Linked DNA regions of Homo sapiens: all the other regions are reported to be linked to region 1. The links are microRNA targets in miRTarBase. Many come from high-throughput screens and were not tested one by one. Region 1 holds a microRNA gene; each other region holds the end of a gene's coding sequence.

Region 1 (4,148 bases):
TCCCCTTAAGCTAATTACTTTTAACCTTTATTTATCCATTATTAAATGCCAGCCCCTCATCCTGCTTAACACCTTATGTGTAGTGTATCATTTCATCAAAACTCTTATTTTCCATTATGTTTTTTTCCCCACAGGTATTTTTTTCTCACTGTAAAAAAAAAAAAAAAAAAAAAAAAAAAAAAGTAGAAAGCACAGGTAAGCAAAAAACAAAAAACCACACACAAAACCACAAACTTTAAGTTACCCACAATCACATTGTTGCCATTTTGCTGTAGGTTCTCCCAGATTTCTGTCCAAGAATGAACCCTCCAGAACCTCCTAGGAGATTCTTTCCAGGTCCGGAGTCCTGGGTTTGTAGTTCAAGCCCCATCTTGAAGGTGCTGTGCAACCTTGAACAGATCCCCCCCAACCCTAGTCTCAGTTTATCCAGACTGCACCTGCATCCTGGGAACAGGCATGGCTGTGCGTTTGATAACCACACCCATTGCCGGTTGGGAGACCAGGTTTTTCTCTCAAGGGAGCCGCAGTCTGTTGCCTTTTGCCACCATTTTGCAAATCAGATCTCAATTCTGGGCCCACCCAGCCACCCCATCCTGTCCCCTCCAGCCTCACCCTGACTTCTCAGCTTTCACTTTTTTCTGCTGATGGGTTGGAAATTGCTACTCTCCTGTTTTCTCTCCACCTGCACTAACAAACCCCAAGTGCTGCCCCCAGCACGAATCCCTGGTTCCCGGGTCCTCTGCCAGGTGCAGGTGCTGCGGCTTCATGTTCAAAGGATTCTGGGCACTGCGCTTTCTCCCTTGATGTGCCCAGCCAGGCTGCGGGGATGGGAGGCTCCTCTCCTGTGCGGCTCAGGCTGTTTTTCTCCCCAGAGCCTTGTGGCCAAGTTTCCGTGGCCCTGTGCTCTGGACCCTGGGCCAGGGCTGTGGTGTGGGCAGCCTTGAGGCCCTGGGTTCCATGCCAGTTCTCGACAGGAAGGCCTTTCATGTGGGTGCCAGCTGGCCTCTGGGCCCAGCTTCGGGCCTGGCAGGGCCTGAGGAGGGAGAGCTGCGAGTGTGAAAAACACTTTCTGTTTGGGAGCTGGTTGGTGGGAAGGAAAGACAAGAGGGAGGGGGACAGGCAGGTCAAAGAGCTTACCCAGGTTTAGAGGAGCGAGGCCAAGGTGCCCCTGTAGAAATGAGGCGATTCGGCCTTTCCTCCCCAAAAAGAGGTCTTGGCAGAGATACAAGGAAGCAAAGTCTGTTGGGTGGGGATGGAAAACACTTTCCCAAGCCTGCCTTCACTCCCTCCCTCCCCCGGGCTCACTGAGCCTAATCAGGTCAAGCACGCAGCTCCCTGCCAGACACTGTGGCATTGTTTAAAGCCGCTGCCTCCCCAGTACCCTCTCCCCACAGAACTGAGTTCTGACAAAGGAGGCCCTGAGGGACAGGGCTGAGAGGACAGAGACCCAAGGTCCAGGGACGCGTCACTCCCCTATGGCTCGCTCTCCTTCCCACTGGTTATTGTTTTTCTACCCTGGACCCCAGGGAGAAAAGGAGCCAGGCCCTGGCAAACCTGAAGGCTGTTTGTGTTGACATAAAGGCACTTTCTGAGCAAACAGCACTGAAAGGTCAGCAGTAACCCCAGGCAGTGCCAGGACTGGGCAGCGGGTTTGGGAGGTGTGGAGAGAAAGGAAACTGTGGGCCACTTGGGGTCGGATGACTTCACCAGAAGAAGAAGAAAAGCCAGCCAGGCTGCAGGGAGGGGGCTTCCTGGAGATGGAGCCCTGGAAGACCTTGGCTACCCCATAAAACTTAAATAGGACTTGAAGTCAGTTGTTTATCTGCTTTCCAGAACACCAATGACATGGGAGAGAGGCTGGCGCCCTAGGCAGGACCCAAGCGAGCCTGGTGTCTGGGGCAGGATCTGCCACTACGCTTGGCTTTCTCACTGTAGGACTCAGTTTGCATGGGAAACCAAAGGAGAATTTCAAGTGTCCTACTCACACATATTCTAGCCTTTCAGGAAACATTTACTGAGCATACATCACCCACCTGATAGGGGGCTAAGCCTGGGAATGCTTTCAGAGATGAGTAGCACAAGGTCTCAGATAAGGTGACCCATTTTCCCCGTTTGCCTGGGCCTCCCAGTTTTAGCACTGAACATCCCTTAGCTCAGGAAGCCCAGGAAACCCTTTGGTTTGGGGCATACTTGGTTGGTTGGTCACCCTAGCATCAGTCATCAAGCAGCTCACGATCTGCAAACAATGGTAGACATACGAGTGATATAATAGAGGGTGCACAGGCATGGGAGGTCAGGTGAGCTCAGCTCCCTGCCTCACCTGAGCTCCCGTGCCTGTGCACCCTCTATTGGCTATGATCACACCACTGCACTCCAGCCTGGGTGACAAAACAAGACCTTGCCACTAAAAAAAAGAGAAAGAAAGAAAAGAAAGAAAGAGAGAAAGAGAAAGAAAGAGAGGAAGGAAGGAAGGAAAGAAAAAGCTACTTTTTGAATGAAAGAATGAAAAAGCATCTCTCAGCTAGGAAATGTCTTGCCATGATGACACCTGTGTTCAATGGGGAGCTACGAGAACATTTTAAAAAAATCTACTGTACTGAGGCATAATTTACATATAATACAATGCATACACTTCAATGTAGACTTTGATGAATTTTAACAAATATATACACTCAGTAACTGTTAAATCAATCAAAATATTTATAGCACCCCAGAAACTTCCCTATTTCTCTTTTGTAGTTAATCCCATCCTAACCATCCCATCCCAGGTAACCACTTACCTGATTTCTGTAACTATAGATTCATTTTAGTTTTTCTAGAACATCATCTCAATGGAATAATACAGTCTGTACTCTTTTGAGTGACTTCCTCTACTCAATGTGCTTTTGAGATTTATCCAAGTTGGTTTGCATATCACTAGTTTTTTTGTTTTTTTTTTACTGGTGAGTATGGATTTATCATAATTTTTCCATGCATTTGCCTATTGATGAACATTTGACTTGTTTCCAGTTTTTTGCTATTCTGGACAATGCTGTTGTGAATAGTATGTACAAATTTTGGTATAGAAAAACATTTTCATTTCTCTTGGGTAAAAACCCAGAAGTGAAATTGCTGGATCATAGGTTAAGTATGTGTTCAGATTTATAGGAAATCACCTAACTTTTCCAAAAGGGTTGTACCACTTCACAGTTTCACCATTAATGCATGAGAGTTCTCGTTGCTCCACATCCTCACAACATTTTGTATTGTTGGTTTTTGAAATTTTAGCCATTCTAGTGGTATCTCAGAGTGGTTTCATTTGCATTTCCCTGATGATTAATGAAGCTGGAACACTTTTTCATGTGCTTACATGGTCATTCATATACTTTTCTTGCAAAATGTCTGTTCATGTCTTTCATCTTTTTTTTTTTTTTTATTTTTGAGGTAGAGTTTTGCTCTGTTGCTTAGGCTGGAGTGCAGTGGTGTGATCTCAGCTCACTGCAACTTCCACCTCCTGGGTTCAAGTGATTTTCCTGCCTCACCCTTCCAAGTAGCTGGGACTACAGGAGCCCACCACCATGCCCAGCTAATTTTTGTATTTTTAGTAGAGACAGGGTTTCACCATGTTGGCCAGGCTGTTCTTGAACTCCTGGCCTCCAGTGATTTGCCCATCTCGGCCTCCCAAAGTGCTGGGACTTTCATCCATTTTTAATTTGAGCTGCATGTCTTTTTCTTATTGAGATGTATGAGTTCTTTATGTATCCTGAAAGCAAGTCCTTTGTCTCATATATGTATTGCAAATATTTTCTCTTATTCTGGGATTTTTTTTCTTTTCATGTTCTTAAAGGGATATTTTAAAGAATAGAGGGTTTTAATTTTGATATAATCCAATTTATCAAAATTTTTCTCTTATGGTTTGTGACTTTCATGACCATATTTCTTAAAGTCACAAAAATTATCTTATGTATTTTTTAAGAAGTTTTATAGATTTAGTTTTTACATTTAGGTTTGTGGTCCATATCAGATGAATTTTTGTGTATTATATGAGGTAATATCAAAGTTTGTTTTTTGCATATAAAAATCATTTGTTGAAAAGACTTTGAAATCATTGGTGTCTTTGGGGAAAATCAATTGATATATATGTGTAAATCTATTTCTGGATCTCAATG
Region 2 (4,000 bases), not on the chromosome of region 1:
GGCCTGCACTCGGCGCCTCGCTTCTTGGTGGCCTTCGCCTACTGGAACCACTACCTCAGCTGCACCTCCCCGTGTTCCTGCTATCGCCCGCTCTGCCGCCTCAACTTCGGCCTCAATGTCGTGGAGAACCTCGCGTTGCTAGTGCTCACTTATGTCTCCTCCTCCGAGGACTTCAGTGGGTGCCTGGATGAGGGAGGAGTGGGGAAGTGTTCCCTGAGGGGACGGGCCTGCCCCTACCACATTCGGACCTTCCTACTTCGTGGTGTGGGCACTCCCTGCAATGTGGCTCCCAATCCTCTTTCCCTCCAGCCATCCACGAAAATGCTTTCATTGTGTTCATTGCCTCATCCCTCGGGCACATGCTCCTCACCTGCATTCTCTGGCGGTTGACCAAGAAGCACACAGTAAGTCAGGAGGTACGGTCTATCCCTAGCGGGGGCTCCAAGGCAGCCCAGAAGAAAATCAAGGACATCTGTCCTCAGGATTCGGGTAATGGTGAGGTGGGAACTGAGTTCTAATGGGAACCCTGGCAGAGGGGTGCTGGGGTTGGGGCTGGGGCTTGGGAACAAACTGAGGGTGGTTGGTCAGAATCTAGGACTATAGCACTGTGTTTGGGTAGTGTGGGAGACTGGAGAATAGAAGAGATGGAGGCTGCAAATGGGGATAGAATGAGGAGTCGCATCTAGGCGGCAGTGAGTTAGGAACAGTGTCAGAGGACTGGTCTGTCATAATTCCAGCGCCCCACCCATGTACATGGGTTTCTTTTCCCCCACAGTATTTGGAGGTGGGGTTGGTGGGTGACTCCATGTAACTTTCATACTCCATCCCCCTGAAGTGGAAGCGGCAGGAATACCACTGCTCCTCGGCCCATCACTCCCCCAGAGGCAGGGACGTGAACACATAGTCGTCATTCTTGCTGCCCCTGCCTGTGCTCCCTTCCATGACCGCTAGTGGGAGCCAAGGGAGATAAGGCCCAGCCCTTAGGAGTTAGGGCTGAGAGGGGAGCCCACGCTCTCATACCCAGCAAGCTGCAGAGTGATCAGACAGCCCATTCCCTAGGATCGCAAGTCCTACAGCTGGAAACAGCGGCTCTTCATCATCAACTTCATCTCCTTCTTCTCGGCGCTGGCTGTCTACTTTCGGCACAACATGTATTGTGAGGCTGGAGGTGAGGCCAGGATAGGATCCACAGGCGGTCATGAGTGGCTGCGGGGCAGCAATGATGTTTTTGATAATGGGCAATGGTCTTGGGGACTGGCTGCCATTGTGTTCTCTGTGGCAGACCAATGGTGGTGTGATTTATCAAGAGGCCTCTGAGCGGGTAGCTGGAAGTTCACCATGTCCTGTTCCTTGTGTCCTCACAACAGTGTACACCATCTTTGCCATCCTGGAGTACACTGTTGTCTTAACCAACATGGCGTTCCACATGACGGCCTGGTGGGACTTCGGGAACAAGGAGCTGCTCATAACCTCTCAGCCTGAGGAAAAGCGATTCTGAACCCTTCAGTCCTGCTTGGGAGGACGCAGCCCACTGCCCAGAAACAAGAAACACGATACCATTCTGGCCTTCCCCACCCCACATCCTCTCTTGGCCTTACTGAAGATGGGGGAAGGGTAAGAAGGAAGGGTGTAGGCCAAGGCTCACCCCAGTGCTGCTGGCTTCTCCTCTCCACCCCTCATATGGGCGTGGGGTCCTCAAACATCACCTTTACCTGAGAGGCCCCAAGAAGCTGAGCTGGCAGAGAGCTCCACCATTTGGTGCTAAAAAAAAAAACGTCCTGAGGTTCATGACCACCATCCAGTTTCTGGCCTTTACACAGTCACCTTTCACTGAGGTCAGGAGCCCCTGAGCAGTGGCTGCTCCCTGACAACCACAGCCATTTCTCTGCACGGGGGTCATTCATAGGACTAATGTATTTCATGATCTACTGTGCACATCCAGGCCTGTGGCCACAGTCCCCTGCTAAAGTTGCTCAGGTGTTCTAGTCCTGACTTCACCTTTTTGATTTGGTGTGTGCCCTAGGGTATGTACCCTTCCCCATCTGAGCCTCGGTGTGTCCATGTGTCTGGCGGGGGATGGGTGGACTGTATGATTTCCAAGGACTCTACCAGTCAGTGGTTCTGATGTCATCGGGTGGAGGTGGTGTTCTATACCTAAAGGATGACCTGCTCCAGAAACAGCACCAGCACAGCATGTATTTTCTTCTCTTCTGAAAGTTCTGGCTTGTAGACCCCTCCCCTCCTTTGCAAAGGTATGGGATAGAGGGGTCAGATGCAGATCTCTACTGTAAAATGGGCTCCCTGGTATCTCCTGTCTTCCCTACTGCTCCAAACCCTAAATTTTGGTTGTACATTTTATTTGAAAGGAAAATAAATTTTTTTTTTGGGCCAACAGTTGCCTAGGCTTGCTAGTCTTGGGGCTCATCTTGTTTGATAGGAACTGGGAGAGAAACAGGCTCAAGAATGGGGAGGGAGTAAGTCCACGGCAGGGTATGATTCCTAGCAGAACCCCCCAGTCCCCCTTAGGTCTGGAGTCTCCTAAAGCTGGTCTAAGCCTTTATTTTGGTGAGCAGGAGTGAGTGAGCTATCTGTAATGATTCTAGGACTGCAAGCTAGGGTACCTGGAAGTCTTCAGTTGAGACAGAGACCTGGGTTCAAATTCCAACTCTTGTTGTTAAAGCTGTCCTCTTGGGGATGTGAGGTACAGCTGTCACATGCATGACTGTGGGAGCATCTGCCTTTAGACTAATGGCTCTGAACCTCTCCCTTTCTGAGCCCTAAGATCAAGAAGTCTTTCCTCAGGTTTTGTGTCTGAGTCCACTACAGCATCTGTGACTGGGCCCCAGAGCAAGACTGCCCCCTCCAAGGGAGCCTAGAGCTTTGTTAGGGAAATTGAGGGGTGAGGGGACCACAATGAAGCCTATTGTCTACTAGAAGAAACAAAAGGCTCCCAGTCTCTGGGGAGCCCTAGCCCATGCCCACCCGCTAATGCCCAGCACACAGGGAGGAGCCGGGGCCACTGGAGACAGGAGGTTTTATTGATGCTGATGGGGGTAGGAAAGGTCCCCAGAAGCATGGGGGCTGAGTCAGTCAGCAAATGCGTAAGGCCTAGGCACAGAGGAGCAGGTTAGGGCACATTCACCTTCTCAGGATTCTGTGGCTCCCTCATTGGAGAAGGGAGAGAGCATCTTGGGGGCGCAATTCCAAGAGCAGCGAGGGCAGAGGTTAGAGATGGCTGAGAGCCCCTAACCTGAGGCGGCACCACAATAGGCAGCAACAACTGTGTGGAAAGCTGGATGAACTGGTCAGTAGCGGAAAATGGGAGGGGGCACTGGGTTGGCCTCTTGGGGAGGGGTCCAACCTTGGCTTGGATGAGCTCATGAGAATACCCAGTGTTCCCAAGCAGAGGGGGGCAGAGCCCAAAGCCCCTTTCTCTGCAGGCCTCCTTAAGGAGAAAAAGGCACTCAGAGAAAAAGGCATTCAGGGAACCCCCTGGAAAGGGGTGCCAGAATTAGTCCTTAAGGCACAGCTGAGGCGGACAAGGCACCAAGGCACAACTGGTGGGGGGAGGGCAGGGGCAGCCTCCAAGCCAAGTGCCAGGGTCACAAGAGGATGCAGGACCGCCCACGCTTGATCGGCGTGGGGTTGAGCACAGCCCGGACAGCCTCGGCGAACACTTCCTTGACACCATCCTGTTGCAGGGCTGAGCATTCGAGGTAGCGCACAGCGTGGATCTGCTTGGCCAGTGCCTGGCCCTGCTGCGGTGTGATGGGCGCCTGGCCCTGCTCCTTGAGGCGCCGTAGGGTGTCAGGCTGGGCTCTCAGGTCCTTCTTGGTGCCCACCAGCAGGATGGGCACATCAGGGCAGTGGTGGCACACCTCTGGATGCCACTTGTGCCGCACGTTCTCATAGGACGGCGGACTGGCAATGGAGAAACAGATGACGAAAACGTTGGTCTGAGGGTAGGAGAGTGTACGGAGGCGGTCATACTCCTCCTGGC
Region 3 (4,000 bases), not on the chromosome of region 1:
ATCAGCAGTCTGCCCACTGCAGACAGGACAGTGTCAGGAATCAGGGCATTGGCCAGAATCCACAGATACCAGCCCCCACCCTCAGCCTGGGGGTGGGCTAGGGAACCCCAAGAATAGCCCTCTTACAACAGACCTGGACCCCTGGCACACCCCTGGGTCCAGATGCCATTTCTCTAGTCAAACCAATAAAACCCTGTTTCCCCACAGGCAGGCCCTACCCTCCAGGCTCACCAAGACCAGGTGGCGAGTCAGGACAGGGTGGCAGCGTGGGAGCCGTGGGACCGGGCAGGGCACTGGGGACCTCAGGGAGCCCGGAGCTAGAGGCGGTGGCGTTGGGCCGGGAGCAGTTGCTGCTGCTGCTGCTGCTGCTAGCAGCTGGGTGGAGGGCATGGGCAGGGCCTCGGGCACTGAAGCGGCTGAAGAAGGCCAGGTGCTGGGCGTAGACGTCAAAGTAGAGGATGACGGCCACGAGGAAGTGCAGCAGGCAGAGAAGGAGCACAGCCTTGCAGACGCGCTCCAGCGTCCCCCCCAGCAGTCTGCTCATCCCGCAGGCGGCCACTGGCCCGCCCAGTGGGCCCGGGCATCCGGCTGCTGGCCTGAGCAGGGTGGGAGGGAAACAGATCCAGCAGGTCAGGGCAGGACAGGCAAGGCTGCCCACCTACCTCCCACTCAGCTGCTCACACTCGTGGGCCACACCTCACACTGACCTGCTCATACCCTTTCACACTCACAGACTCAAGAATTTACCTCCAAACAGACACCCAGGCACAGTTCCCGGCAACTCAGTACTCACATCCTCAAGCACACCCCACTACTAAGCCACATACATTTACCTTCCTCCACCTCACTGACACACACACTCAGGCACTCACCCTTATTGCACAACTCTACACACACACTCACGCATTCCCAGGAACACAGACACGTGAACTCTAACCACACTGGTTTGTACCTAAGCATGGAGACATGTTTACCTATAGACCCCCATGTGCCCCTGTGCCCCTGAGAACAGACACCTCACATGGCAGCATCCTTAACCCAGAACTCATGGCTTGGGGAAGAGGGAAGAGACGGAATACTGTGCACCTACCATGCAGGAGCACTTTATACTCATGACTTCATTTAGTCCTTCCAGGAGCCATGGTGGGAAGTGGTTTGGTCATTCAGATCCCAGCGACAAGCAGGCCAGGCCAACTGGGACCAGGCTGGGAAGTTGCCCTCAGCATCCGGGGGGCCCAAATACAGACTGGATGTTTACAGAATCCCTTCCCACTGGAGCAAAACGTCAAAATACGGGGCAAGGCAGGGGACACCCCTCACTTAAGACCTCAAAGCCAGCCCCTTGGGACTGGGACCAAGACTCTGGGTCCTGCCCAGCACAGCTGGTTCTGATTCCCGGAACGGGATGCTTGGGCCTGGAGATGGGCACAGCACTGGGCATGGCAGGAAGGGGGTCTTGCCTGGGCGATGGCTCCAGCTGTGGTTCCAAGAGAGCGGCAGCCACTTCTGGCAGTGCTTCAGGGAGCAGGGTGAGTCTCACAGGCACACAGAATCACAGGGACACCCTGGTCCCAGCTGGTCACCCACACTCAGACACACAGAGAACTACAGTCACAGACACACCCGGGTGACAGTAACACACTAAGTCCCACACTCACAAACAAGGCCACTGCTCCTGGACTTCCACAGCCATACATCCAGACTCTCAGACAGCTCACACCCAGACCCACGTGCAGACATTCCCACCCTCCCTCCGGCGCAGGGGTTCTGGGTCAGGCTGGCGGCCAGGCTGAGGGGTGCGTTTGGGCGGGGCTGGCAGGCTGAACACGTGGCACCCGCGGACGGGCAGGCCGCACAGACCGGGTGGGTGTGGAGCCTGGGGGCAGGGGGAGTGGGTGGAGGGCAGCGGATGAGGCAAAGGCCAAGGGGAAACGTGTATGGAACGCCTCCCCGCGCCACGAGGCCGGGGCGAGCGAGGACAATGAGGGAGGCCGGCTGGACGCGGGCGGAGAAGCCCAGGAGGGGCGCCGGAGTGGGGGCGGGGTGGGGGCAGCCAGGCCGGGGTCTGGCCGCCGGCGCCTCTCTCACCGGCTCCTGGGTTGGGATCTCGGGGCCGCGCTCGGGGTGCCCCTCGCGGGGCTGGGTCTGGAATCTCGGGGCCCTGGGTGGGGGCCGCGCGCGCCCTCCTCTCACCCGGCGCTCGGGGCTCAGCAGGGGACGCCGCTCCGACTTGGGCAGGGCTCCCGGCTCCGGCGGCTGCGGACGGTTCCGTCCCCCATGGCCCGGCCCCGCCGCCTCCCGCCGCCCGGTCAGCGGCCACCGCGGCCCCCGGGTCGCCTCCCGCCGCCGCCGCCGCCGCCGCCGCCGCGGGCCATGGAGCCGAGCCGCCCCGGGGGGCAGGGCGGGGCCGGGCGGCCGGGCAGACCCACGGACCGGCGGACCCACGGACCACAGCGCCGCCGCCTCCCTCCCGCGCTACGGCGCCTCGGAGGGGCAGGCCCGGCCCGCGCGCCCGCGCGCGCGCCCCCGCGGCCCCCGCCTCCAGCACGCCCGCACCCGCCGCGCGCCGCTGCGAGCCCGCCCTGCCGGCGGCCGAACCCGGGCACCCAGGAGGCACGGACCTGGGAGCGCGGGAGGAAATGGGTCAGGCTCGTCCAAAGGGTGGGCTTAGAGGTCGGACCGGCGAGCGGGTGCAGACCGTGGAGTCCCTTAGCGGGGAGTGGGGATTGCATTGGAGCGCGAACTCCCCAGGAAGGGGACCTGGAGGTTGGGCGGACTCAGGCTGCGGGGCTAGGGATTTGTCAACTCTTTAATTGGACCAAGATTCAAGGTCGGCCAGCAGAGAGGGGGCAGGACCCTTAAAGGCGTGGGCTGGAGGTGGCTGGGGCTTCTGGGGTAACAGGAAACAGGGTCAGGGAAGGAGAAAACGAGATTGGATGGGGTGGGAGGAGCTGCCCTGGGCCCTGGGAACAAGGATCAGAGTAGAGGTTTCTGGGAGGGGCTGCTGCTAGAAGGACAGGACCATCACTGGAGGCAGAGACCACTGCCTAGGCTCCAGGCCTCACAAGGACGGAGATGATGGTGCCCGACTGTACAACCAGGTAAGTAGATGCTGTCAGACAATTCGGGCATGGTGGTCAGTCAGAGCCCTGAGCAAACGGGCCTAGAAGGACTACAGGCACAAACACACCCAGGGGCCCCTATCTGCACACTCCCTCATCCCCAAACAAGTCTGTTTGGGGGTTAGAGTCCACCCAGCACCCGTGCCTCCCCACCTAGGAGCAAGCTCTGTGCAGATCAGAAGTGTGCAGTCAGAAAGCTGACAAGGGATTGGCATGAGGCTGAGGCGTACAGGCCTCTTTACCCTTCCTCTGTGAACGGTGACGCAAGAGGGCAACAGAAGCTGCACTGACCCAGACAAATACCAAGTTTATTTCACAAACACTAGGAAGATGGGTTGAGGGTGGAGGTGGGGGACACAGGTGCGCAGCTGCACAGAGTCAGCAGCAGCAGCCTGCTCCCCGCACTGAGGACTCGGCCTGGACTGCAGTGCCTCCAAATCAACACGCAGCAAGAGGGGAGTGCAGGGAGGGCCCTGAACACCAAGCCTCTGAAAGGCTAAGGGACACAGCTCCAGCTGTCCCAGGAAAACCAGCAATAAATAAAAGTGAGGCACGGCCCCACCCACACATATCATCTAGTCACCCATCTTCACTCTGGAGGTCTGCAAAAAAAGAACAGGAGAAATCAGGCAGGGACAGAGGAATAGGTAAGGCAGTGACAAATGATAGAAGATGACATCTAGCACATGGTTGGATGGACAGACCACAAGAGATATATGACTAACCAGGATGGACACACTGTGACAGACAAGGCAGACAGGGACAGACAACCACAGAGTTACGCTGTGGGACAGACGGAGAGAAGTGGCATATGGATAAAGCTAGTCACTAAGAATCAACTCAGTCAAGCACCCACAGTCACACTCAGACCCTCAGGC

Evidence for each region. The annotated mature microRNA hsa-miR-3622a-5p reads CAGGCACGGGAGCUCAGGUGAG and lies in region 1 at 2,316-2,337, opposite strand. An mRNA with a match to its seed (bases 2 to 7 or 8) in the 3' UTR can be bound and repressed. Matches are read on the target gene's strand: a 7mer-m8 pairs with bases 2 to 8, a 7mer-A1 pairs with bases 2 to 7 and ends in A, and an 8mer does both.
Region 2: the mRNA of RHOG is a reported target of hsa-miR-3622a-5p. Seed matches in the 3' UTR shown: 7mer-A1 at 3,110-3,116.
Region 3: the mRNA of ATP6V0B is a reported target of hsa-miR-3622a-5p. Seed matches in the 3' UTR shown: 7mer-m8 at 3,671-3,677.

The regions. Positions count from the first base shown.
Region 1 is chr8:27,699,879-27,704,026 of GRCh38, reverse strand. MIR3622A (microRNA 3622a) reads right to left here and starts at 2,350; the gene lies at 2,268-2,350. It overlaps MIR3622B (microRNA 3622b), which reads left to right and starts at 2,260; the gene lies at 2,260-2,354. It overlaps LOC124901920 (a long non-coding RNA gene), which reads right to left and starts at 3,057. Exons shown (of 2, transcript XR_007060869.1): 1 at 1-3,057. It also overlaps a transcript of SCARA3 not described here. RefSeq lists a silencer at 748-893.
Region 2 is chr11:3,823,961-3,827,960 of GRCh38, forward strand. It overlaps RHOG (ras homolog family member G), which reads right to left. Exons shown (of 2, transcript NM_001665.4): 2 at 3,018-4,000. The coding sequence ends at 3,603. It overlaps PGAP2 (post-GPI attachment to proteins 2), which reads left to right. Exons shown (of 7, transcript NM_014489.4): 4 at 1-175; 5 at 310-416; 6 at 1,060-1,168; 7 at 1,368-2,411. The coding sequence ends at 1,498. Among named protein-coding and RNA genes, the nearest start is that of RHOG, 15 kb to the right of the region's middle.
Region 3 is chr1:43,977,705-43,981,704 of GRCh38, reverse strand. It overlaps ATP6V0B (ATPase H+ transporting V0 subunit b), which reads right to left. Exons shown (of 8, transcript NM_004047.5): 8 at 3,410-3,724. The coding sequence ends at 3,698. It overlaps B4GALT2 (beta-1,4-galactosyltransferase 2), which reads right to left and starts at 2,495. Exons shown (of 7, transcript NM_003780.5): 1 at 2,194-2,495; 2 at 232-596; 3 at 1-16. The coding sequence starts at 544. RefSeq lists silencers at 2,122-2,231, 2,502-2,601 and enhancers at 2,019-2,610, 2,611-3,201, 3,202-3,793.